4 linked regions of the Homo sapiens genome follow. The protein of the gene in region 3 interacts with the protein of the main gene of each other region in a pairwise test. Each region holds a gene or a part of one and is shown on either strand. Other genes may lie near its edges.

Region 1 (4,263 bases), on a different chromosome or scaffold from region 3:
CCTGGCCAACGTGGCAAAACCCCGTCTCTACTAAAAATACAAAAAATTAGCCAGGCGTGTTTGCGCATGCCTGTAATCCCACGTACTCTGGAGGCTGAGGCACGAAAATCACTCGAACCCAGGAAGCAGAGGTTGCAGTGAGCTGAGATCACACCACTGCACTCCAGCCTGGGCAACAGCGCAAGACTCTGTCTCAAAAAAAAATTTTAAAAATGCCACTGAACAAACAGGAACTAAAAGTTATATGGTCAACATTTCTACTGCTCATTTCCTAAGTCTGGGGGCAGAGGATCGTGCCCAGGAAATGACTATTAGAAAAACCAGGGAACTTCCTCTAATCAGTCCTTTATTGAGTGGTTCTGGTATTTCATGGCTCTAAGTATAATAGTTCTGGCATTCAGAGTTGTATATTTGGTTTCCTTCTGATGATAAAAGGAAAGGACCTCACATCACTCAGTTTTTATTCTATTTATGTCAAGAGAAAAAACTTCCAGCAAACCAAATGAAAAGCAAGACACATCAGCATCTAAAGAATTTCCATATTTATTTTACATAATTTTACCGTACACATCTCATGCCAACACACAGGAGGCATATACAAACAAACGCACCAGCTTCTGTTTTCCAAAGTCATATGGCAATAAATAAGGATGGGTGGGTCTTTTTTTTTTCTTTTTTTCTTTTTTTTCCCCAGGAAACGAGACTTCATTTCTCTTTAACTGTACAAAATTTACATTGTGAAGGATGAGGGCAACGATCCAGAGCTGAGGGGATCTGGGGCTTTGAGGTCTGATTGCAAGCTCAGAGCAACTTCTGGAATCCCGCAGCCCTGAACCTGCTTGTTTGGCCGAACACAGTCCTCAAGTGGGAAAGTTGGTGTGATTCTTGCCTCTCGGTGGGCAATAGATGAGAGTGGGGGTGTCCTTCCTCTGTTCACCTGTGCTCTGCCTCCCTAAGCAAAGGAATGCTTGGTGCACCTCCCAAACCTGCAGCTGTCTCCTTACCAGAGCTAGCAGCATGAAACTGTGCTTTTAGTGTGGTCCTACCAAGCAGAGTGTGGATGGGATGGCTTTGCTGAGCTCTCTCTTTTTGGCTCCAGTCACTCACTGTTTAGAACAGTTGGAGCAACTACTGCAAAAAGGGCCAATTGACCAATCCAAGAAAGAAGAGAGCCAGTGATGTGCTTTTCATTTAGCTTTCAGCATGCCCAGAGCCCTTCAGCAGCAGGCAATAAAACAAAACTCATTTCCGCTTAATTGAATTTTTCTTCATCTCACGGTTTCCAATTTTTAAAGTGCAGTGTTTAAAAATGAGCCTCCTCAGGCCTTCCAGACCCTGCTGGCTGGGGAGGTATGGTCATTATTTTCATGGTTATAACCAAGTTGTCAGTCGTGGCACGTGGAAGTGTAGGTGCAGAGAGTGGACTGTCATACAACACACAGCCTTTGCTCATCAGAAGCCTTGAGCCCCCTCCTGTAAAGAGGCAGTTGGAAATCACCAGTTTGAGCTTCTGAGATAGGAATGTCTTTTGTTTTACAGATTTCTTACACTTCCTTGCAAAGTGAGTTTAATGATGAAGATCTAATGGCCCAATTATCTTACTAGGTTTCATGTTTTACACTGCCCCCCCCCAAAAAAAGTTTAAGGACACTGCCAAATGGTTTTCTTGTGGCTTAATTTTTTCCTCTTTCCCTGATGTTTCACAGTATTCATTTGCAGGAACAGTGTTATCAATGATAGTTGATCTTTATTTTACGTTATATTCATAACTGTCAGATGAGACAAGAAAGAGAAAGCACAAAGACTGAGAGGAATTTGCCTGAGGTTGCATAGCAAGTCCTTGAAGGGCCAAGAACCTGACTCCCAACACTGATTTACCCATCGGGCCAGCTTCTTAGCCCTTAAATCTGGTATTTCCTCCATGGTTTCATTACGTTCCAACAAACAGAGATTCCTCCATAGCCCCTCAGTTTCCATTTTGCTTATACCAGTTACCACTGGAACTTGGGGTTTTAACTAATTTGCTCCTGGATTCAAGAGCTTCCTACTCTAAAGTCGACCAGCCAGGCACTGCAGATAATGGTTGCCTCTAGAAGGTCTCATTTCATTTTTAAAATTCATCCATGTCATTTTAGCAAGGGGGGAAACAGCTACCATGTAGCACCTTATACCCCATAATAGACTTCCAAGCAACAGAGGAGTGCCTCTAAGAGAAGCTAAAAGTAATGAATGCCCGGCTTTTCTCCATTTCCAAACCCCAGAAGAGTCCTGTCATGCAATGGCTCATTAGTGGCACCAGCCCACCCATAATGCTAACCCAACCTGTAGGGAGATCCATTTAAAATCTTAGACCTACTGTGGCTGTGCTTCTAAACAGGCAGCAGTGTTTGCTGCTTTCTGGGGAGGTGGCTCTGGAAAACAAAGCTCTCCTGGTTTTCAGGCCAGTGCTCTCAAGGGTTTTTCCAGCTAACCAGCCCTACTGATGCCAAAGAACTATTGACCTCGTCAACTGCTCACTGAGTTCCTCAAGAGATTTATTATATTATTAGTATAAATGAGGAAGGCCTCTCCTTCCACTATTGAACTGGGAATTAGTATGATTAACTTACAAAAACTGGTCAACTTACTTACAGTGATCTTAAACAGTGCTACACAGAGGAGGATGCCCCCCCCCCTTTTAAAAAGCCTGCTCTCCCCCACACTATACTCACCAAAAACTTCAAGGGCCTCTGAAATCCCATGAGTTGCTAAGCCAAATAGTCAACCTGCAACAGTGATCTGGGTGGGCAGCTTTTCATCTGGTTCATTGCCCAGCAGAGCCTTTTCTCCTGTGTATTTTAAGCAGCCTGCTAAGAAGGGTGTATTTAAAAAGCCATCCTCCAAAAAGACGACTGCATTTTCCTTTCCTCACATGGCATTTGTGTCTTCCTCCCCACCCCAGTGTTCATGATTGGAGAATTCCCAATAGCACAGAATTGGCTAGGATTAACACAACATCATCCATAAACATGGAACCTCAAGAGAAGTGTCTATGTTTGCAGACTTCTCAAGCAAAAATCATGACCACTGCAGCACACCAAAAAACGAGGGTACGCTATAAAATTGGTCAGAGAAGAGGGCCCGAAGGCTGATCCCGGAATTTACTGTTTTAAAGAACTTACTTAATTGAACTTAGTTTAGTCCTGGAAAAGGGCTTACAAAAGATGTAGCAGTCCAAGAGGAACTGTGTATTCTTCCTTTAGTCTGCCTATGACATGCCTAAGTCTTTGCAGTCCTCAAAAGGTGACCAACCATTCGTAGAAGGAAGGGTCCTTAGGGTCTCTGGCCCCATCACTTCATGTGATAGGCAATGCCTTCTCACCCTTTCCTACTCTGCTGATCTCATTTAAGAGAATGGGAGGCCAGAAGAAGCAAACACAGCTTCCCAGAGGGACAGGAATAAATTCCAGCTGGCTAAATTCCAGTTTGCACATGGAGAGCTTCCTGATGGTAGATGGGTGCACAAGGTGGGTGGGAGCTGCAGCACCATTCAGGACAGCGTTTCCCACAGCAGTGCAGTCTGTCGCAGGAGTGGCAACTCGTAAAGCGGGGGTTGGCCTTGCTCTGGCCTCAGGCTTAGTGATTTGCTACTGCAAACCTGCACAACGGGGAGTCCCTGCACCACCACTGGCCAGAGAGTTCTGGCTTTCTGACCATGGGACTGCAGCCCAAGGCATGGCAGGTGTCCAGCCAGCAATCCAGAGAGATGCAGCCCAAGAACCACTTAGAACCCTTTGGACAATTTTAGGGCTGCTCCCTAAATTACTCTTCCCAACCAAGGTAGGCCAAAAAAAAATTGCTGGTTCCTGGAAATGACCAAAACTGTCCTCCAATTGAGTCAGCTAGGACAGCAGAGAAAGCTTTCAGAGGGGTAGACTTGCAAGCTCATCTAAACCAACTCCTTCAAAACAGACTCCAAATATTTCACCCTACAAGGGATGGGGAACTCTGGAAGACTGGCATCAGCCGATATGGCTGAACAGACTGCAGGTTTGGAATCCAAATGTGTCTACAAATGTTCACTGATTGATTGTCATTTTGTTCTCCCCACATTTTAGTTTTGCTCATTTTACAGCCCACAGCCTGTCTTGTGGAATAAATGATACAAGCAATTGAAGAAGGCACACTGTGCACCAAGGGGACGACTCAGGCAATCTGCAGCGGTGGTCCAGGGCTACTCAGCTCAGCCTCAGTCACCTGCAATGAAAACCACCTCTTGCCATC
Region 2 (7,042 bases), on a different chromosome or scaffold from region 3:
CAAGACGCAAGGGAGGAGGCAGATTCCAGAGGTGGCCCCGCCCAGGCATGCAGAGAAGGGAGGCTCTAAAGGCATCAGAGAGCAAGGGGTACCTGCGGGGCCTTGAAGGATGCAGGGACAGGACGAGCTGGAGGAGCTGGGCAAGATGGCTGCTCAGGGAGGGGACAGAGAACCAAGGCACCCAACAGTCCCTCCTCTTCCCATCTCACCTGGCAAGTGAAGAAAGGGAAGGGATAAAGGCAGGGAGGGTGAAGAGAAATGAGGGGCGAGAAGGAAAGAGAAAAAAACAGCAGGTCCGGTGCAGGAGTGGAACGGTGCCTGCAGGAGCTGCTCTGCTAGAGGAGGGTCCCTTCCTCTGCGCTGAGGAAGCTCCCTGGGCATCGAGCCCCCACTCAGCCCATACCCCAAGGGTGTCCCCTCACCTCCTCTCTTGCTTTTCCTGCTCTCACCTCTGGTGGTGGCTGCAGGGAGCTCCTTTCATCTCTGGACTGACCACCTGCCCAAGCCCATAAAAGAGGGACTCCTCAGCACTTCTGCCTGCAGGAAGTGCTACCTTGTCCAATGGGTGAGCTGTCTGTAACCTGGCATTTCTTGTCCCTGTTTCTCAGGTGGATGGGCAGGAGGGCGTGTGTGGGTGAACCAGGTGAAGGCTGGTGCCTGGACAGGGGCACTCACGCTTGCTGGCTGGGTGAGTGTCTGTTGGGGGTGCCAGCAGCCACATCGTGAACAGAGCTTTTCCAGGCTTAAGGCAGATTCTGCACTTGGATTCCCACATGCCTCCTTGTCTATTTCCCAATTGGTTCCAAATCCAGAAGTGAGGGGAGTCACTCCTTGGCACCATCAGTCCAACCCCGTGAAATCCCCATCCTGGGAAGGAGCCTGCATCTCAGGTAAGGAGACTCAGAGTCCGGTTCCAGCTCCACCACTGATGACTTGAGTGGACTTACCACATCATTTACCAACAATCACAAAGACTTCTGGGACATCTGCCACCTACAAGGTCCCGAAAGAATTCCCAGAGGAGCAAAACACAGTCCTGACCTCTCCGGTCTCAGTGAAGATGAGTCCTGCACTCCACAGCACATGGGCCATGAGAGTGGGGCAGCTCATCACACCCAGCAGGAACACTGGGGAGCCTGCCAGTGACCGGACCCGGGACTCAGCAGGTCCCACCACCAGGGAAGGCTGCATCTTACCTTCATGTCAGGGCTGTACTTTTGGGACTTTGCCTCCCCTGATCCCACTATCCCCATGGCCAGCCTCCAACAAGAAGTGCCATCTCTCCTCCCCTCTTCCCACCTCTCGCCCTCCATTGAAGGAGGAAGACCTGTAAGGGACTTGGAGCTTGTCCTGGACCTCACACTTCACCGTCTTCATTTACTAAATAAAGGCTCAAGGGCGGCCCTGACCGGATTCAGGGTGCTGGCTCTCCCTTCCTTTCCCATCTCTTCCCAACTTCCCCCTCCTCCCTCCCTGCCTGGCCCCACCCTTTCCTCTTCCTCTCCCATTTCACTCCGCAGAGATAAGGATCAAAGATGCAGCAAAACCCTTCTAAAGGGTTTCTAAAACAGATCAAATCTGGCTTGAATTTCCCCAAGTCAAGCTCATCATTTTCCTCTCTGAAATGAAAGGAAAAGGGGGAAAAATCAAATTGGAAGCCCACAAGCTTTGAAGTCACTGGCTTCATCTCAACACTCTACTCTGCCTGGGTTCCCCATATTCCAGCCCCCAACCTGGCAGCCAGGAATGAAGATGGACCCAGAGAATTCGGCAATCAGGTGTAGATGGTGAATGCTTTGCCACATTTAGACTTCGAGGACCCCTCTGTTTATCCATCCATTCATTCATTCATCTATTTATTTATTCATTCATCTATCCATTCATTCATCCATCTATCCATTCATTCATCCATCCATCCATTCATTCACCCATCCATTCATTCACCCATCCATTCATTCATCCATCCATTCATCCATCCATCCATGCATCCATCCATCCATTCATTCACCCATCCATTCATTCATCCATCCATTCACCCATCCATCCATGCATCCATCCATCCATTCATCCGTCCATCCAGCTATCCATCTATCCATTCATTATTCATCCATTTATTCATTCATTCACATATCCATTCATTCATTCATCCATCCATTCACCCATTCATCCATCCATTCATCCATCCTTTCATCTATCCATCTATTCATCCATCCAGCTATCCATCCATCCATCCATCCATTCATTCATTTACTCATTCATTCATCCATCCATTTATTCATTCATCCATTCACCCATTCATCCATCCATTCATTCATCCATCTATCCATTCATTCATCCATCCATCTATTCCCTTCATTCATCCATCCACCCATTCATCCATTCATTCAAAAAATGCCTAGTGAGCACTTACTGTATGCTGGGCTCAGGAGACATCAATAAGCAAAACAGAGATGCCTACTGTGGTCCAGCCTATATTCTTGCCTCAGGGAATGGATAATAAATGATACATGTAAATAAGGAGACTACAGTGTCATGAGGAAGTCAGACCACGGAAGAAAGGAAAAAAGAGTCAGGGAAAGGGGGATGGAAACTCAGGCCTCGCAGAAGGTGGGAGCTGAGCTAAGTCCTGGGGGAGGTGAGAGCATGGACCAAGTGGGAGGGGGCAGTAATGCACACTGGGGGATGCCAGGGAAGCACCCTTCTAAGGGCAAAAGACCCAGGTGAGCAAGTCAGAGATTCCCTGCCAAGGTTGGGGCAGCACAGAGGGGAGAGGCACAGGACCTCTTGGGCACATTGTCAGCACCCGAGTTTTCACTCCTGCTGAAGTGGGAGCCACAGCCATGCTTTGCCCAGCATAGTATCATATTCTAACTTGGGGTTGAAAAGGGCCACACTCCTAATTCAATGGCCAGGTCCAATTTTACACACAGAATTCTAGAACCAGATAGGACCTCAGAGATAACCCCCTGCATCCCCATTTGGCAGATGAGTACACTGAGGCCCACAGAGGGTCACATACCCAGGAGGCACGAGTCAGCCTGAGATGAGTACACTGAGGCCCACAGAGGCCCAGGAGGCACGAATCAGCCTGGACTCCACACCTCTCAACCTCTGCTGTCTGCCCTGCACCTGGGCCCTAGCATCAGGGAACCCTGGGACAGGACATGGCTAGCATGGCTCCCAAAGTGCCCTCTGACAGAGCTCCCCACAGAGGAGGGGCCCAGAAGGCGCAGTGGCTAGGGTTGCTGTTAATTTCCAGTCGTTCTGGTCCAAATGAGCTTTTTAAAAAAACAATCTGGGGTTCAGAAAAAGGGAGAGTAAGATGAGGTACTAGGAAGTGGGTATGGTGGTCCCAGGGACATCTGACCCCTCCCACCCCTGAGGCCCCCCAGGCTGGCCCTGATAGTCCTCTCCAATCACCCCACTGTGCTGTACCCAGTCTTTCTTGCCAAACCAAGCCCCTTTGCTGATGTGCCAGTGGATATGGATGCCACCTTCCCCTTTGCGGATGGACTGATGGGAGCTCTGCATGGGACCAGAACCCCAGGCCTTCTCCTCCGCCTGACTGGTGTGAGCCTTACAGAAACCTGACCCAGCTTGGTGTCACACAAATAGGAATATCTTTCCCACATCTTCTCTTAGACAATCTCCTTCAGTCTTCCAGCCCTTTTCCAGAAAGCCCTCTGCTCGCCTGACTTTATTATTCACACACATTTTGGCCTACTGTATATTATAGGCAGTTGTTCCCATGCCAGCCTCTTCTACTGGGATCATAAGCCCTTTGAGGACAGAGATTTTTTAATTTGTGTTTGGAGAATCCCTGGCTGCTCACCCTGGCCTGACACGTCGTGGATCCTCAAAATATGTTTGTCAATTGGAATCCAGAAGAAGAGCCACCATGGTGGACAATCCTAGGGCTGGGTGAGCAGGTTCATTGGTCAGAAGCCCAAATCTCCTTGTGTCCTCTGCCTGCAGAGACTCTCCCCACTCTAAGCCACCACGGTTCTTTCCCTACACTCAGCGCCTTGTGGGAGGAATGCAGGGTCGGAGGAAGAGAAGAGTGGAGTCATTGCTCTTGAGTAATTTCAAGAGGCAGTTGGCAGAGTGGAGCAAAACAAGAGAGGAAAAGGCCTGTCTCTCCTTGGCCGGAAGTCTTTGCAAGGCTCCTCAGTAAGCTTCATTCTATTTCTCTTTGACGTGGGGGCAATGCTCTCCTCTCTGACATGTGCTGCATGCAGCAAGAACTTATCAGTCATCTACTGGGTGCACAGGAGCCAAGCTGGTGGAAAAGCGCTCTGGGCTCCTCCAAAGGAAGCTGCATCACTTGGATCTCCAGGGTTTTAGCAAATAAGCAGCCCCTGAGATGCAAGGCCTTCTGGGTCACTGGCCTGGGGACCCCTTTCTGTGGCAAGACCAGGGCCTTGCACCCAGGGGCAGGATGAGCACCTTGGAGAGCTCTTTGCCCCTCACGAGTGCTTCAGGAAGTGGGTGGGAGGCCCCTCTCCTCACCTGAGAGGGTCTGCACTGACTGGCTCAGAGGCCCTTGCCTGACCCGAGTCTCACTCTCTCAGGAGCAGAAGCATGGCCCTCGGAGTCAGGAGGCTCCATGCTGGACCACCATAAGACTGATGGACTGTGAAATCTGTCCATCTGTAAAATGAGTACTCATCTTGCTGACAGGTTTGTGGAAGTGAATGAATGAGAAAACCCATGGAGAAGACCTTTTAAAGCATAAAGTTCAATATATGCACTATTACATGAGGAGGTCACAAGCACTTAAAGGCAATGCCAAGGTTGGGTGGTGGTAGGGCTCCTTCCCCACCCCCAGGCCAGATCTTGTGCCCCAAGTCTGAGCCAGCTGCACTCACCATCCTCACACAGGTTCAGCTTGGACAGGCTCCTGCCATCAAAGGAATCCTCACAGATGGAGCTGGTGTCACAGTCGCTGACGGTGTGTAGGTACATAGCTTTGTTCTCCATCACACCCTGCAACAGCTGCAGAGAAGGCAAGAGGGGAGGAGAGGGAGGACGAAGGCCGGGAGAGAGACAGAGAATCAACTGTAGGTGGAAACAGAAGCAAATGGATAGAACAAGGTGCCCACCCCTGACCCTAAGCCTGAACACCGGGACCCTCTGCTCATCACCAGGACCCAGGTGCCATCCTCCAGGTCCTTGGGGCCGTGATGCCCCCACTCCCAGCTTCCTCAGGGCTTCAGAAGACCAAGGCCCTTGGGCCTTTCTGATGGTGGGATGTGTCCATTCCTTTCAACAACTCTCAGTGGGGCTGGAATCCTGAGCTGGGGTCACTGTGGGTTACACTGGGTGGGGCCAGGAGGAGGGAACCCTGCTGACTCAAAAGGTAACCTGAGAGCAGGCTCTGAGCCCTCAGAAGCCCGGGGCATGCCAGAGAGACTTGAGCTTCTGTTCTGTGTTGGAAATGAAGGAAGGAAACTAGATATGAAGGGGCATTCAGAGGGGGTACAGAGTCCACTTGCAAACAAAGCTGAGCAGACCAGGACTGCTCCCAAATCCAACGGGGCTGGCATGTTGGAAGGAGCTTGGCTCAGTAGGACCACAGCAGGGATTCATCTACTGTGGTGGGGCCCGAGGAGCAGGGAGCCTCTGAAGGGACACCCAGGCACTAAGCATCTGGACAGCTTTAGGCCAGGGAGGGCTTCTGTCTGCATGGCCCCCAGAGGCTGACTCATTGGGTCTCTGGGTCTACGCCATGATGGTCCAGGAGCATATACATTGACTTAGGAGAATCCTATGCTCTTTGAAAGGAAACAGCCTGTTGACGCAACAATGTGTACAACACGATCCCATTTTGTAAGACATGCACGCGTAAGGTGCGTGTGGATGTAAGACGCTATGATGGCTCCGGGTGAGAAATGTATTACAGGACTCTGGCTGGAAGGGATTGTGGGGATTTAATATTCCTTTTTGCTTTCAGATTTTCTGGGTTTTCTATGATGCATTTACATTCCTTATGTAATGAGAAGAATCTGTTTTTTAAGCCAAATTACAAAGTATATACATCAATTTCTTGATATTGTTTTTGTCACATAAATGCTCAGTGACTTTACAAATTATTCTCTACTTTCATCAAGGTTCCAGCCATGAGTTTATCTTGACCTTTGCTTCTGATTCTCTTTAACTATCTGGACATTTAACCAAAGAACAGCATCCTTTAGAAGATAAAAGCCCCATGAGGATGGGTCCCAGGCCCAGTATGGAGCAAACTCAACCCTTCAACCCAGAGGAGGCTGGGAGGAGAGGATGCAGGGCTGGCAGGTGGCAGTGGGGGGACAATGCCTGTTGATTGAGAGATCAGTCAATCAGTTTCTCTTCAGAGGGAGGGTGGGCAAGGAGGCGTGGCAACTTTCATAAATAGACATAATCAGGGAAGGCGGCTGGCGGGGTTGCTCTGCAGCAGAGCAAAACAAGAATTCCGTATTTTCTTTCTTCTTTTTTTTTTTCTGTTTCTTTCTTTCTTTTTTTTTTTTTTTTTTTTTTTTGAGACAGGGTCTCACTCTGTTGCCCAGGCTGGATGGCAGTGGTGCAGTCTTGGCTCACTGCAACCTCCGCCTCCCGGGCTCAAGTGATCCTCCCAACTCATCCTCCTGAGTAGCTGGGATTACAGGCACAAGCCACCATGTCCAGCTAATTTTTTGCAGAGATGGGGTTTCACCATGTTGGCCAGGCTGGTCTGGAACTCCTGGAGTCAAGCGCTCCACTGGCCTCAGCCTCCCAAAGTGCTGAGATTACAGGTGTGAGCCACTGCACCCAGCTGAAGCCCCTATTTTCATGACTTGAGCTTGGCCTCCACAGACCTCTGACATTTGGGCTGAGAAGAGACCAGAACTGACCAGTCACTGTATACATGTCCTTCTAATGACCCAGGAGGGCTGGACGCCTCTGCTGTTAGCCCTTCTGTACATCCCCCATAACGGGCACACACACGCATGTGCACACACACAGCCTTGGGGCTCCCAGTATCTGCGGGCCTCTCCTCCAGCCTATGGGAGGGATGGAACAGGGG
Region 3 (7,042 bases):
CTATGAGTTGTACTTTTTTATCCTCCATATATAAGTGAGATCATTCAGTATCTGTCTCTGTTTGACTGGCTTATTTCATTTAACACAATGTCTTCCAGTTCATTTATGTTGTCACAAATGACAGGATTTCATTCTTTTTTAAGGCTAAATAGTATTCCATTGTGTATATATACCACTTTTTTTAATCCATTCATCCATTGATGGACACTTTTGATTCCGTATCTTGGCTATTGTGAATAATGTTGCAGTGAACTTTCAAGTACAGATGTCTCTTGAATGTACTAATTTTACATCCTTTGGATATATACCCAGAAGTGGGATTGCTGGATCATATAGTAGTTCTATTTTTAATTTTTTGTGGAACCTCTGTACTATTTTCTATAATAGCTGTACTAATTTACATTCCCACCAACAGTGTACAGAGGTTCCCTTCATCACATATATGGTTTCCAAATATAGTCTCCCATTCCATAGGTTCTCTTCACTCTATTGATGGTTTCGTTGGCTGTGCAAAAGCTTCGTAGTCTTTTAAAATAATTTTTAAAAAATAATTTAAAATCCAGATTCTACAAACTTCTTAGTGTGATGTAATCCCATTTATTTATTTTTGGTTTTGTTACCAGTGCTTTGGGGTTTATATCCAAAAAAAGTCATTGCCCAGACCAATGTCGTGCAACTTTCCCCTTATGTTTTCTTCTAGTAGTTTTACAGTTTCAGGTCTTACATTTAAATCTTGAATCCTTTTCGTGTTAAATTTTTTTATATGGTAAAGGATGAGGGTCTAATTTCATTCTGCATGTGGATATCCAGTTGTCCCAAAATGATTTATTGAGACTGTTATTCTTAACATCTGTGAAAAGTATGTTTCTGTAACTGTCTTTTCTGTGTTCTTAACATCTTTCTCAAAAATCAATTGACTTTAAATGCATGGATTTATTTCTGGGCTCTTTATTCTGTTTCCTTGGTCTATGGCTGTTTTGATTACTGTAGCTTTGTGGTAGATTTTCAAATCAGAGAGTGTGATCTCTCTGGCTTTGTTTTTTTGGCTTAATATTGCATTGCCTGTTCAGGGTCTTTTGTGGTTCAGTATGAATTTTAGGATTTTTTTTTCTATTACTGTGAAAATATTATTGGAAAATTGATAGGGATTGCATTGAGTCTGTAGATTGCTTTGAGTGGTGTCAACCTTGTAACAACATTCATGTTTCCAATCCATGAACACACGTTATCTTTCCATTTATTTGTGTCTTCTTCAATTTTTTTCATCAATGTGTTATAGTTTTCAGTGTACAGATCTTTCACCTCACTGGTTAAATTTACCCCTATGTATTTTTTTTGTAGCTATTGTAAATGAGATTTTTTTTCTTTTTTTTCAGATAGTTTACTTTTAGTGTATAGAAATGCTACTGATTTTTGTATGTTGATTTTATATCCTGCAGCTTTACCAAAGTAGTTTGTTAGTTCTAACAATTTTTTGGTGGAATTTTTTATAAGATTTTCAATATATAAGAGCATGCCATCTGCGAACAGAAACAATTTCATTTCCTTTTTTCCAATTTCAATGCCTTTTATTTTTCCCTCTTGTCTAATTACTATAGCTAGGACTTCTAGTACTATGTTGAATAGAAGGGGTAAGAGTGAATATCCTTGTCTTGTCCCTCATCTTAGAGGAAAAACTTTCAGTTTTCACCATTGCGTATGATGCTAGCTGTGGGCTTGTCATAAATGGCCTTCATTGTGTTGAGCTAGATTCTTTCTATACCTAATTTGTTGAGAGTTTTTATCATCAAAGGATGTTGAATTTTGTCAAATGCCTTTGTTCCATCTATTGAGATGATCATACGGTTTTTGTCTTTCATTCTGTTAATGTGATGTATCACCTTTACTGATTTGCATATGTTGAACCATCCTTGTATCCCAGGGATAAATCTGACTTGATCCTGGTGAATGACCTTTTTAATGCGCTGTTGTATTCAGCTTGCCAGTATTTTGTAGAGGATTTTTGCTTCTATGTTCACTGGGGATATTGACCTTTGATTTTCTTTTCTTGTAGTGGATTTGTCTGGCTTTGGAATCAGGATAATGCTGGCCTCCTAAATTGAGTTCGAAAGTTTCCCCTCCTCTTCAGTATTTTGGAAGAGTTTGAGAAGGATTTGTATTAGTTCTTCTTTAAATGTTTGGTAGAATTCAGTAGTGAAGGCATCAAGTCCTGGGGGTTTTGTTTAGTGGGAGACTTAACTACTGATTTGATCTCTCTACTTATTATTGGTCTGTTCAGATTACCTATTTCTTTATGATTTAGTCTTGATAGGTTGTATGTGTCTAGGAACTTATCCATTCTAGGTTATCCAATCTGTTGGCATATAATTGGTCATAGCAATCTCTTATGAGCCTTCATATTTCTTTTGTTTTAATTGTAAAGTCATGTTTATTGGAGTATGAACTTATATGCAGTAAAATTTACCATTAAGTATGAGATTGGACAAATGCATAATCATACCATAATCAAGATGTAGAATAGTTGTAGAACAAGATATAGAATCACTCCAAAAATTCCCTCATGCTCCTTTGCAGTCACCCCTTTTTTATCCCTAGGAATGCATTGTTCTGTTTTCTGTCAAAAGGGCCAAATTTAATCACTGCAATGGTCTCCAGTACTGTGGAAAAATTCCTGAGCATACAAAACACACAAACCAAGTTTTTAAAAAATGAGATACTTTTAAAAATGTCTTTAGCATATCAACCAAATGAAGGTAGCTTCATATTTTACTACAGATGCTCAGATATCTTAGGCAGAATTAAGTCCACCATTGCCATATATATGCCTCAACAGTAATATTTAAGAGTAGACTGTAAAAATAAACTTACAATCTTTAGAATCGTCAAAACAATGGGATTATTAAATGACCTTTGTAAGTTAAAGCAAAGTTTATAAAGTTGTCTTACATAGTTGTGAAATAGCTAGTCTAGTTAGATAGAATTAACGTCTCCTAAAACTGACCTGCTTGAAGAACTACTGTAGGTCATGTCTTTGTAGGTAGAGTATGTGAACGAAGATTAAGTACTTGCTCTTTTGTGTTAACACTGTGTCAAGTTTCAGACTGGGGCTGGTTGATAGAAAAACTAGTTAAAAAAAACTATTTTAAATAATGGAATTGAATTTTATGGAAATTCTCTGTGGCACCAACTCAACCACAGGACAGAAACAAAAAATTCTCATCTAAACATTCCTGTAGAAAATTGGGACCATCTAAAAATTCACCCCAGCTACCACCATGAAAGAAACAAAGAAAGCAAAAACTTCTGTTCTGAATATATCAGTGGTCCCATATTCAGATACTTCTTATCTACTTGAAAAGCTTTGATGGGTGGGGCACGGTGGCCCACACCTGTAATCCCAGCACTTTGGGCCCAGGTGGGCAGATCACCTGAGGCTAAGAGTTCGAGACCAGCCTGGCCAACATGGTGGAATGCTGTCTCTACTAAAAATACAAAAATTAACTGGGCGTGGTGGTGCACACCTGTATTCCCACCTACTTGGGAGGCTGAGGCAGGAGAATCACTTGAACCTGGGAGGTGGAGGTTGCAGTGAGCCAAGATTGCGCCATTGCACTCCAGCCTGGGTGACAGAGCAAGACTCCATCTCAAAAAAACAAAACAAAAGAAAAAAGAAAAGCTTCGCTGATTCTTTCAAACACACATCAGACCTTAAGTTCATTAGCATTTATAACGTCACTGAGCTGCATTGAGCTCTGTGGCTGAAAAAGCCAATTCTTTGTATTTCTGTGGTATCAGTTGTAACATCTCTTTCGTTTCTGATATTATTTGAATCTTCTCCTTTTCTTAATCTAGCTAAAAGTTTGTGGATTTTGTTTTTCTTTTCAAAAATCCAGCTCTTAGTTTCATTGATCTTTTCTATTGTTTTTCTAGTCTCTTTCATTTTTTTCTGTTCCGATCATTATTATTTTTTTCCTTCTACTAACTTTGGGTTTTATTTGTTCTTCTATTCCTTCAGTTGTAACACTAGGATGTTACACTTTGGATCTTTCATCTTTTTTGTTATAGGTCTTTACTGCCGAAGCTTCCTTTCCTCTTAAAACTGCTTTTGCCACCTCCCATAAGTATTGATGTGTTGTATGTCCATTTTCATTTGTCTCAAAATACTTTTAATTTCGTTTTTAATTTACTTGACCTATTGGTTGTTTAGGAGCATGTTATTTAATTTCCAGTTATTTATGATTTTTTTCAAGATTCCTTCTATTATTGATTTCTGGTTTCAAACCAATATGGTCAGAAAAGATACTTGATACGATTTCAGTCTCCTTAAATGTATTAAAATTTGTTTTGTGGCATATCATATAACCTGGAGAATGTTTTGTGTGCCCTTGAGAAGAATGTGTATTCTGTTGCTGTTTTATTGAATTTTCTACATATGTCTGTTAGGGCCAGTGTTTCATTATTGATTTTCTGCCTGGATGATATGTCCATGGTGTTTGTAGAGACGGCGTCTCACCATGTTGCCCAGGCTAGTCTCAAACTCCTGAGTTCAGGGGATCCTCCCGCCTTGGCATCCCAAAGTGCTGGGATTACAAATGTGAGCCACTGTGCTGAGCTCTTTTCCATTCTTTCACTTCAATCTATGTGTGTCCATTTTTTAAAGGTGAAGTGAGTCTCTTGTACACAGCAGGTAGTTGGGTCTTATTTTTGTATCTATTCAGTCAATCTGTGTCTTTTGATCAGAGAATTTAGTCCATTTACATTCAGGGTAATTATTGATAGATAAGGACTTACTGCTGCGATTTTGTTCATTGTTTTCTAGTTGCTTTATAGATCTTTTGTTCCTTTCTTCCACTCTTGCTGTCTTTTGTGATTAGATGATTGTCTCTAGTGATATACTTTGATTCCTTACTTTTCATCTTTTGTGTATTTACTATTAGGTTTTTGCTTTGTTGTTCCCATGAGGCTGACATAAAACATGTTATAACAGGCTATTTTAAACTGATAATAACATAATTGATAACATAAAAAACCTCTGCACTTTTACTCCACCTCTCCACATTTTGCTTTTGATTTTGCAACGTATATCTTTTTATACTGCATATCCCTTAACAAGTTATTGTAGCTATTATTATTTTTAATAGTTTTGTCTGTTAACTTTCATACTAAAGATATAAGTGATTTAATCACCATGACAGTATTAGAATATTCTGAATTTGACTGTATACATTTTTTTTTCAGCTCTAAAATTTCTGTTTGATTTTTTAAATAATAATTCCAATCTTTCTGTTACATTTCTCATTTTGGTCATTTATTATTTTCTTGATTTCATTGAATTGTTTCTCTGAATTTTCCTGAAGTCCACTGAGTTTCCCTAAAACAATAATTTTGGATTCGTTGTGAAGAAGGGTCAGTTACTGGTGATTTGTTTCTTTAGTAGTGACGTGTTTCTCTGATTATTCTTGGTCTTTGTGGCCATGTGTTGGTATGTGTGTGTTTGAAGAAGTAAGGACTTACTCCAGTCTTTGCAGACTGGCTTTGTCTGGGAAAGCCCTTCACCAGTAAGCTCATCCAGAGGTTCTAGACAGGCCATCTGTTGTGGTGCATGGCAGGCTTGCTGCTGGAGTCCTTGGGTAGGCTGGCCTGGTGCCTAGGTTCGTAGGGTTGTTCCTGGAGCCTGATCCACTGGGGTGGACCTGCTGATTAGCTCTATAGGGGTGGGCCTGGATCCTTAGGGTTCCAACTTGAAGCCTAAGTCTGCAGGGGTTGGTCTGGCACTGGGGTGAGCCTTGAGCCTGAGTCTGCAGTGTCTGGCCAGGTTCCAAGGTGGGCCTGGTGCTTGGAACCCCTGGGGTGGACCTGGAGCCAGAGTATGTGGGGGTGGGCCTGGGTCCTGGTTGTACTGTGACTAGCCTGGAGCCTGAGTCTGCAGGAGTGGTCCTGCAGCCTCCGTCCATGGGGGCCAATCTGGCAATGCAATCTACTGGGGTGGTCCCAGACTCTGGGTCTGCTGGAACATACCTAGACCCTGACTCACCACAGGGATTTGTCTGGGGCCAGCTTGGTGCTGGGGCAAGTGTGCAGCCTGGGGTCACAGGGGCCAGACTGGAGCCTGAGATTATAGGTGCTGGCCTGGTAACTTGGGCTACATGGGGCTGGCCTGGGTCCTACGGCAATAGTGGCTAGCCTGGAACTTGAGTCCACAGGGATGGTCCTGGAGCCTGTGTTTATGGGTGTCAGCCCAACAGAAGGGCCTACTGGGATGGGCCTAAACCCTACTTCCACTAGGGTATGGGCTGCAGGAGCCAGACTGGGGCCACAGGAGCTGACTTGGCACTGGTCAGGCCTGGAACCTATATCTGCAGGAGCTGACCTGGTGCTGGGGTGGGCCTGAACCTTGGGCCCATGGAGGCTAGCCCTGTGCTGGGATTGGTCCAGAACCTAGGGCCACTGGGGCTGGCCTGTCCCTAGAGCAGACCTGGAGACAATCTATGCAGTCTTGCCTGGTGCTGGGACTGTCCTGAGCCTTGAGCTGGTCTGGAACCTACGGTCCCAGTGGGACAAGCCTAGAACTCAGGACTGGGTGATCCAGCCTAGTGCCAGGATGGGCCTAAAGGCTTCGCCTGCAGGTGTCAGCCTGGAGTCTGGGCTGAGGGGGCTTGCTCAGCACTGAGTTCTGCTGGGGTGGGCCTGGTGTTGTGGTCCAAGGCAAAGTCCTGTGCTCACTGCCTCTCCTTCGCCCACCTGGAGGGTATCTCTCTCCATGCTGTGCTGCCTGGAGTTGGGGGAAGGGTGACATGAGTTCTGTAAAACTGTCCTTCTTACCCTCTTCAGTGTGTTTTTTCTTACTTTTGTGCTAAACCCAGTGCTGTAATTTCTCACCTGGTCTCCTTAGCTCTTGAGAATGTATTTTCGTGCGTGAATAGTTTTTCAAATGGATGTTTCTGTGGGAGGATCAGTGCTGGAAAGTCCTATTCCCCCATCTTGCTGTTGTCCCACCTTTTTCTCCTTTATGTATGATAATCTAGGGTTGACTGTAACTGAT
Region 4 (4,782 bases), on a different chromosome or scaffold from region 3:
ATATGCTTACTTGCTCCAGGAATAAATTAAAAAATATAAACTATCAACCACCTTTAGTGGAGACCACTAGCTGTACCTAACTCAATTCTGTACTTTTTTCCCCAACTTTTCCTGGGCACATGACTACCTGGAATGAAAGCTATATTTTCCATCCTTCCTTGCTATTTACAAGTAAGGCATTATGACTAAGTTTGGCCAGTGACATTTAAATAGAAGTGTTGGGTACAACTTCTGGGAAATTTCTTTAGACAGGGGATGTAACTTTCTCACTGCCCTCTTTCTTGCTGGCCAGAGTGCTGCTGTGAGGGCTAGAGCTTCACCAGCAACCTTGGATCATGGGTTGAATGCCAAGTGCTGAGGTTGGTAGACTAACACAGCAACCCTGAAATACTTACCTCTGGAATTCTTTCATGTGAGAGGAAAAAAAAATTCTCTCTCTTTTTTTTTTTTAAGCCTCTGGTATTTGGGGTTTTAGTTTTATGCTGCTGAACCTAATCTTAAGTGATACACTTTTCAATTGCTGACATATTAATCCTTTATTAGAAATTGTAAATGAGAAATTATATCAACACCTGAGGACCAAACTACAACAGAATATTCCATAGGCTCAAGATTTTGAGACATTCTGGAAAGAGTTTTCTGTAAGGTATATCCTTTCCGTGGCATGGCAACATCATCATTCTTTAAAAAGGTGACTGGACAGACATCATTTCCACCATCACCAATATAAACAATTTGTGTATAATTCACTCCCTGTTGTAACTGTTTATCTACAAATTCTATCAAAACTACCTTTTTGCAAAGATTCTTTGGGCATCTATTGCAAGAATGAGTATGATAATTTTCAACAGTGAGATGACCATTGCTATTAAAAGCTGCTGGATTTGTAAACACTTTATCAAATATGTCATGAAAACTGGCAGCTTCTAAAACCCAATCTATGAAGACCGAATTTGAATCTGAAATAATAATGCAGTCAAATTTATCCTTATTCTTTCTTATAAAGTTGAAGAGTTCCACCATCCCTGGAGTGAAAGGCAATGATGTCACTGCTCTTTTCATTTCATGTTCTCTTACACCCTTATCTCCCAAATACTTAAAGACTCTGCCCATAAATTCTGTCCAAAATCCTTTTCGATAAGAATCACGTAGTTCAATAGGAAGCTTTTTGTTGGGAGCACATTGTACAATCCAAGTGTCACTATTGTCATCTATGATTGTATTGTCAAAGTCAAAAACTAGCAAAATTTTCATGGTTCCAGAAATAGATTTGGATTACCCTGAAAAAGAAGAAATATTATTCCCTAAACAAACTCTGTTTACATATCTAGCTAAAATACTTATTTAATAAACATAACTAAATGTTAATCTGCTAAAGGGAGGAATATAAACAAAGTAATTAAGCACTTCAAGACCACTACCTAACCACTTTTCTCTAAGAAGCAAAGTTCGTATTTGAGTATTTTAAGTGGAAAACAAAATATATAAAAAGGACATTCATAGTATTATTGTGTTCCTGGAGGTGTGTTTCTTATAGAATTTATAAGAAAGAAAAAAAAGCATTTCTTACTATCATTAAATTATCAATCAAACCACACTTATTTTATTAGATTAAAATATTTACAATCCTCATATTAAATAACAGATCATGTATAAAGGACTCTCTGTGTACTAACCAAAATTCTGAACAAATTTAACATAACATGAAATCTTGGAAGATGTAAAATAACTTTTTAAGAAAAGGTATTTAGTAACAAAAACAAGCAATGGGGAAAGGATTCCCTATTTAATAAATGGTGCTGGGATAACTGGCTAGCCATATGCAGAAAACAAACTGGACCCCTTCCTTAACACCATATACAAAAATCAACTCAAGGTGGATTAAAGACTTAAGTGTAAAACCCAACACTATAAAAAACCTAGAAGAAAATCTAGGCAATACAATTCAGGACACAGCAAAGGCAAAGGTTTCATGACAAAGATGCCAAAAGCAAATGCAACAACAGCAAAAATTGACAAATGGTATCTAATTAAACTAAAGAGCTTCTGCACAGCAAAAGAAACTATCAACAGAGTAAACAGACAACTTAGAGAATGGGAGAAAATTTTTGCAATTTATCCATCTGACAAAGGTCTAATATCCAGCAACTATTATAAAGTTGAAAAGTTCCACCATCCCTGAAGTGAAAGGCATCGATGTCACTGCTCTTTTCATTTTATCTTCTCTTACACCTTTAGCTCCCAAATAGTTAAAGACTCTGCCCATAAAATCTGTCCAAAATCCTTTTTGATAAGAATCATGTAGTTCCTTGATAAGGAACTTAAACAAATTTACAAGAAAAAACAAACAGCCCCATTAAGAAGTGGGCAAAGACACAAACAGACAATTCTGGAAAGAAGACAATACATGTGCCCAAGAAATATATGAAAAAAAAGCTCAACATCACTGATCATTAGAGAAATGCAAACTAAAGCCACAACGAGATACCATCTTATACTAGTCAGAATGGCTATTATTAAAAAGCCAAAAAATAACAGATGCTGGCAAGGTTGTGGAGAAAAAGGAACACTTTTACACTGTTGGTAGGAGTGTAAATTAAATTAGTTCAACCATCGTGGAAGACAGTGTGGTGATTCCTCAAAGACGTAGAGGCAGAAATACCACTTGACCCAGTAATCCCATTACTGGGTATATACCCAAAGGAATGTAAATCATTCTATTATAAAGATACATGCAAGCGTATGTTCACTGCAGCACTGTTCACAATAGCAAAGACATGGGATCAACCTAAATGCCCATCAATGACAGACTGGATAAAGAAAATGAGGTACTTATACACCATGGAATATTATGCAGCTATAAAAAGGAATGAGATGATGTCCTTTACAGGGACATGGATGGATCTGGAAGCCATTATCCTCAGCAAACTAACACAGGAACAACAACAAGAAAAACCAAACACCATGTGTTCTCACTTATAAGTGGGAGCTGAATCATGAGAACACGTGGAAGGGAATAACATACCCTGGGACCTGTCAGAGGGTGGGGGTGGGAGGAGGCAGAGCATCAGGAAAACAGCTAGTGGATGCTGGGCTCAATACCTAGGTGATGTGATGATCTGTGCAGCAAACCATCAGGGCACACACTTACCTATGTAACAAATCTACACATCCTGCACATGTACCCCTGAACTTAAAAGGTGGAAATCAAAAAAATTAAAAAAGTATTTAGCTTAAAATCAATTTCTAAATATCAATATTATAAGTAAATGATTGCTGACACTCTATATGATATTCTAAACAAATTACCTGAGAACTGGAGGCCAATTTAATTCTTCCAAACTAGAAGTAACTTGGTTAAGAGTTTTCACATGTTTATTTATAGCTGCTCTAGATAGTTTAGCTCTGGGGTGCCAAATAATTTGAATACACCTGAGTAATCATACTGTTTGTGGTGTGACAATTACTTATGTCTCTGTTTTCATTAGAATATAATGAAGGTGATTAATTATAAATCTCAAGAGAAAAGGAAAGAATAAGCTGGTCAACTGATGGTAAGAATAAACATTATTTATAAAAAATAACTATATAGAATATCCAGAAAAGGATATAATTAATGTGTGTAAACAGATAATAATAATAATTTTGAGAGTCATTATATGTCAGGCACTGACCTAAAAACTTTGCAATATCATACCATTTAATTGTCACAACCCTATTAAGTAGGAATCATTATTATCCTCATCTTAAAGATATATAAGCTGGATCTTGAAGTGGTTAGGTGTTAGTAAAGTGCCAGAGCTGGAATCTTAGGTTGATTTGATTCCAGACTTCATGCTTTTAAGTACCAAATTCTAGTGTTAAAAAATAGAATATTTAATGACTACTCATTAGTTTAAAAATATAACACTAAGTAGGTAATTTTGGCAGAAAGATATTTAATTACATAAAAACATTCATTACTTTCAAAGTACACACTAACCATAACACCACATCTGTGATACTCTTTATAACCATTTTGAGGTTTTTACAAGAAATCCTAAAAAGGCAAAGAACCACAGCAATAAGAAAAAGATCAATTAAAAATGAAAAACATGGCATTTAACCACACATATTCTCCAGTTTATAACAGTAGACACCCAGTAGTGAAGACAGAATAGAGCTCTTGACTCACATAAGACTAAGTATTCTGTGTCTCTTAATTTAGAATATCTAGAGAATAATTAACCTATAGGGGTATCACCTGTTGTGTGAATGTGGCTGGTACATAGTTTTTGTTATTCTGGATCCTTGTATCACTAAATGCCTAATCCAGATGCTTCTGACTGGTTCCCTGAAATTTAAATGCAGAATTCACTTTCCTACAGAAACAATGTAATAAATAATAAGGCATAATTGACAATCACAGTAGTACTGTAACTAGGCACATTTTAAATTAAATATGCTTTTTGAGAATTCTGAATTTATAATTAAAACAAATTTCAAATGTAACTCACTGTTGTTTGAAAACTGCCTCAAACCTAAACTTAATTAGCCACAAATTACTGAAATTCCTGAATTATTAGCCTCAAAATAGCATGAGACTGAGGTAACATAGTTCCCCTGCTGATCTGAAAGTGCACTTTTAAAATTTTCCCATCTTTTTCTGTTAGTATTTTCTCACCACTCAACATAAACCTTTAAAAAATACTTACCCAACTTAGTATTTCCAAGACAATCTTACTTCAGCATTGGGATTAGGATAAACAATCATGACAATCTTCAGTTTTAAACATCAGCCAG

The links.
Region 1: the proteins of WASHC3 (region 3) and LHX4 interact in binary tests that used the Homo sapiens proteins (3 or more experiments, as listed by UniProt).
Region 2: the proteins of WASHC3 (region 3) and SCARA5 interact in binary tests that used the Homo sapiens proteins (3 or more experiments, as listed by UniProt).
Region 4: the proteins of WASHC3 (region 3) and PHOSPHO2 interact in binary tests that used the Homo sapiens proteins (3 or more experiments, as listed by UniProt).

Annotation. Positions count from the first base shown.
Region 1 is NC_000001.11:180,275,247-180,279,509, reverse strand, and holds the end of LHX4 (LIM/homeobox protein Lhx4), read right to left. Parts: 3' UTR 526-4,263; downstream 1-525. UniProt on the Homo sapiens protein: May play a critical role in the development of respiratory control mechanisms and in the normal growth and maturation of the lung. Binds preferentially to methylated DNA.
Region 2 is NC_000008.11:27,982,636-27,989,677, forward strand, and holds part of SCARA5 (scavenger receptor class A member 5), read right to left. Parts: intron 4,996-7,042; 5' UTR 4,981-4,995; coding exon 4,869-4,980; intron 1-4,868. UniProt on the Homo sapiens protein: Ferritin receptor that mediates non-transferrin-dependent delivery of iron. Mediates cellular uptake of ferritin-bound iron by stimulating ferritin endocytosis from the cell surface with consequent iron delivery within the cell.
Region 3 is NC_000012.12:102,051,968-102,059,009, reverse strand, and holds part of WASHC3 (WASH complex subunit 3), read left to right. Parts: intron 1-7,042. UniProt on the Homo sapiens protein: Acts as a component of the WASH core complex that functions as a nucleation-promoting factor (NPF) at the surface of endosomes, where it recruits and activates the Arp2/3 complex to induce actin polymerization, playing a key role in the fission of tubules that serve as transport intermediates during endosome sorting.
Region 4 is NC_000002.12:169,697,444-169,702,225, reverse strand, and holds the end of PHOSPHO2 (pyridoxal phosphate phosphatase PHOSPHO2), read right to left. Parts: 5' UTR 4,695-4,782; intron 4,362-4,694; exon of another isoform or gene 4,244-4,361; intron 1,281-4,243; 5' UTR 1,255-1,280; coding exon 529-1,254; 3' UTR 518-528; downstream 1-517. UniProt on the Homo sapiens protein: Phosphatase that has high activity toward pyridoxal 5'-phosphate (PLP).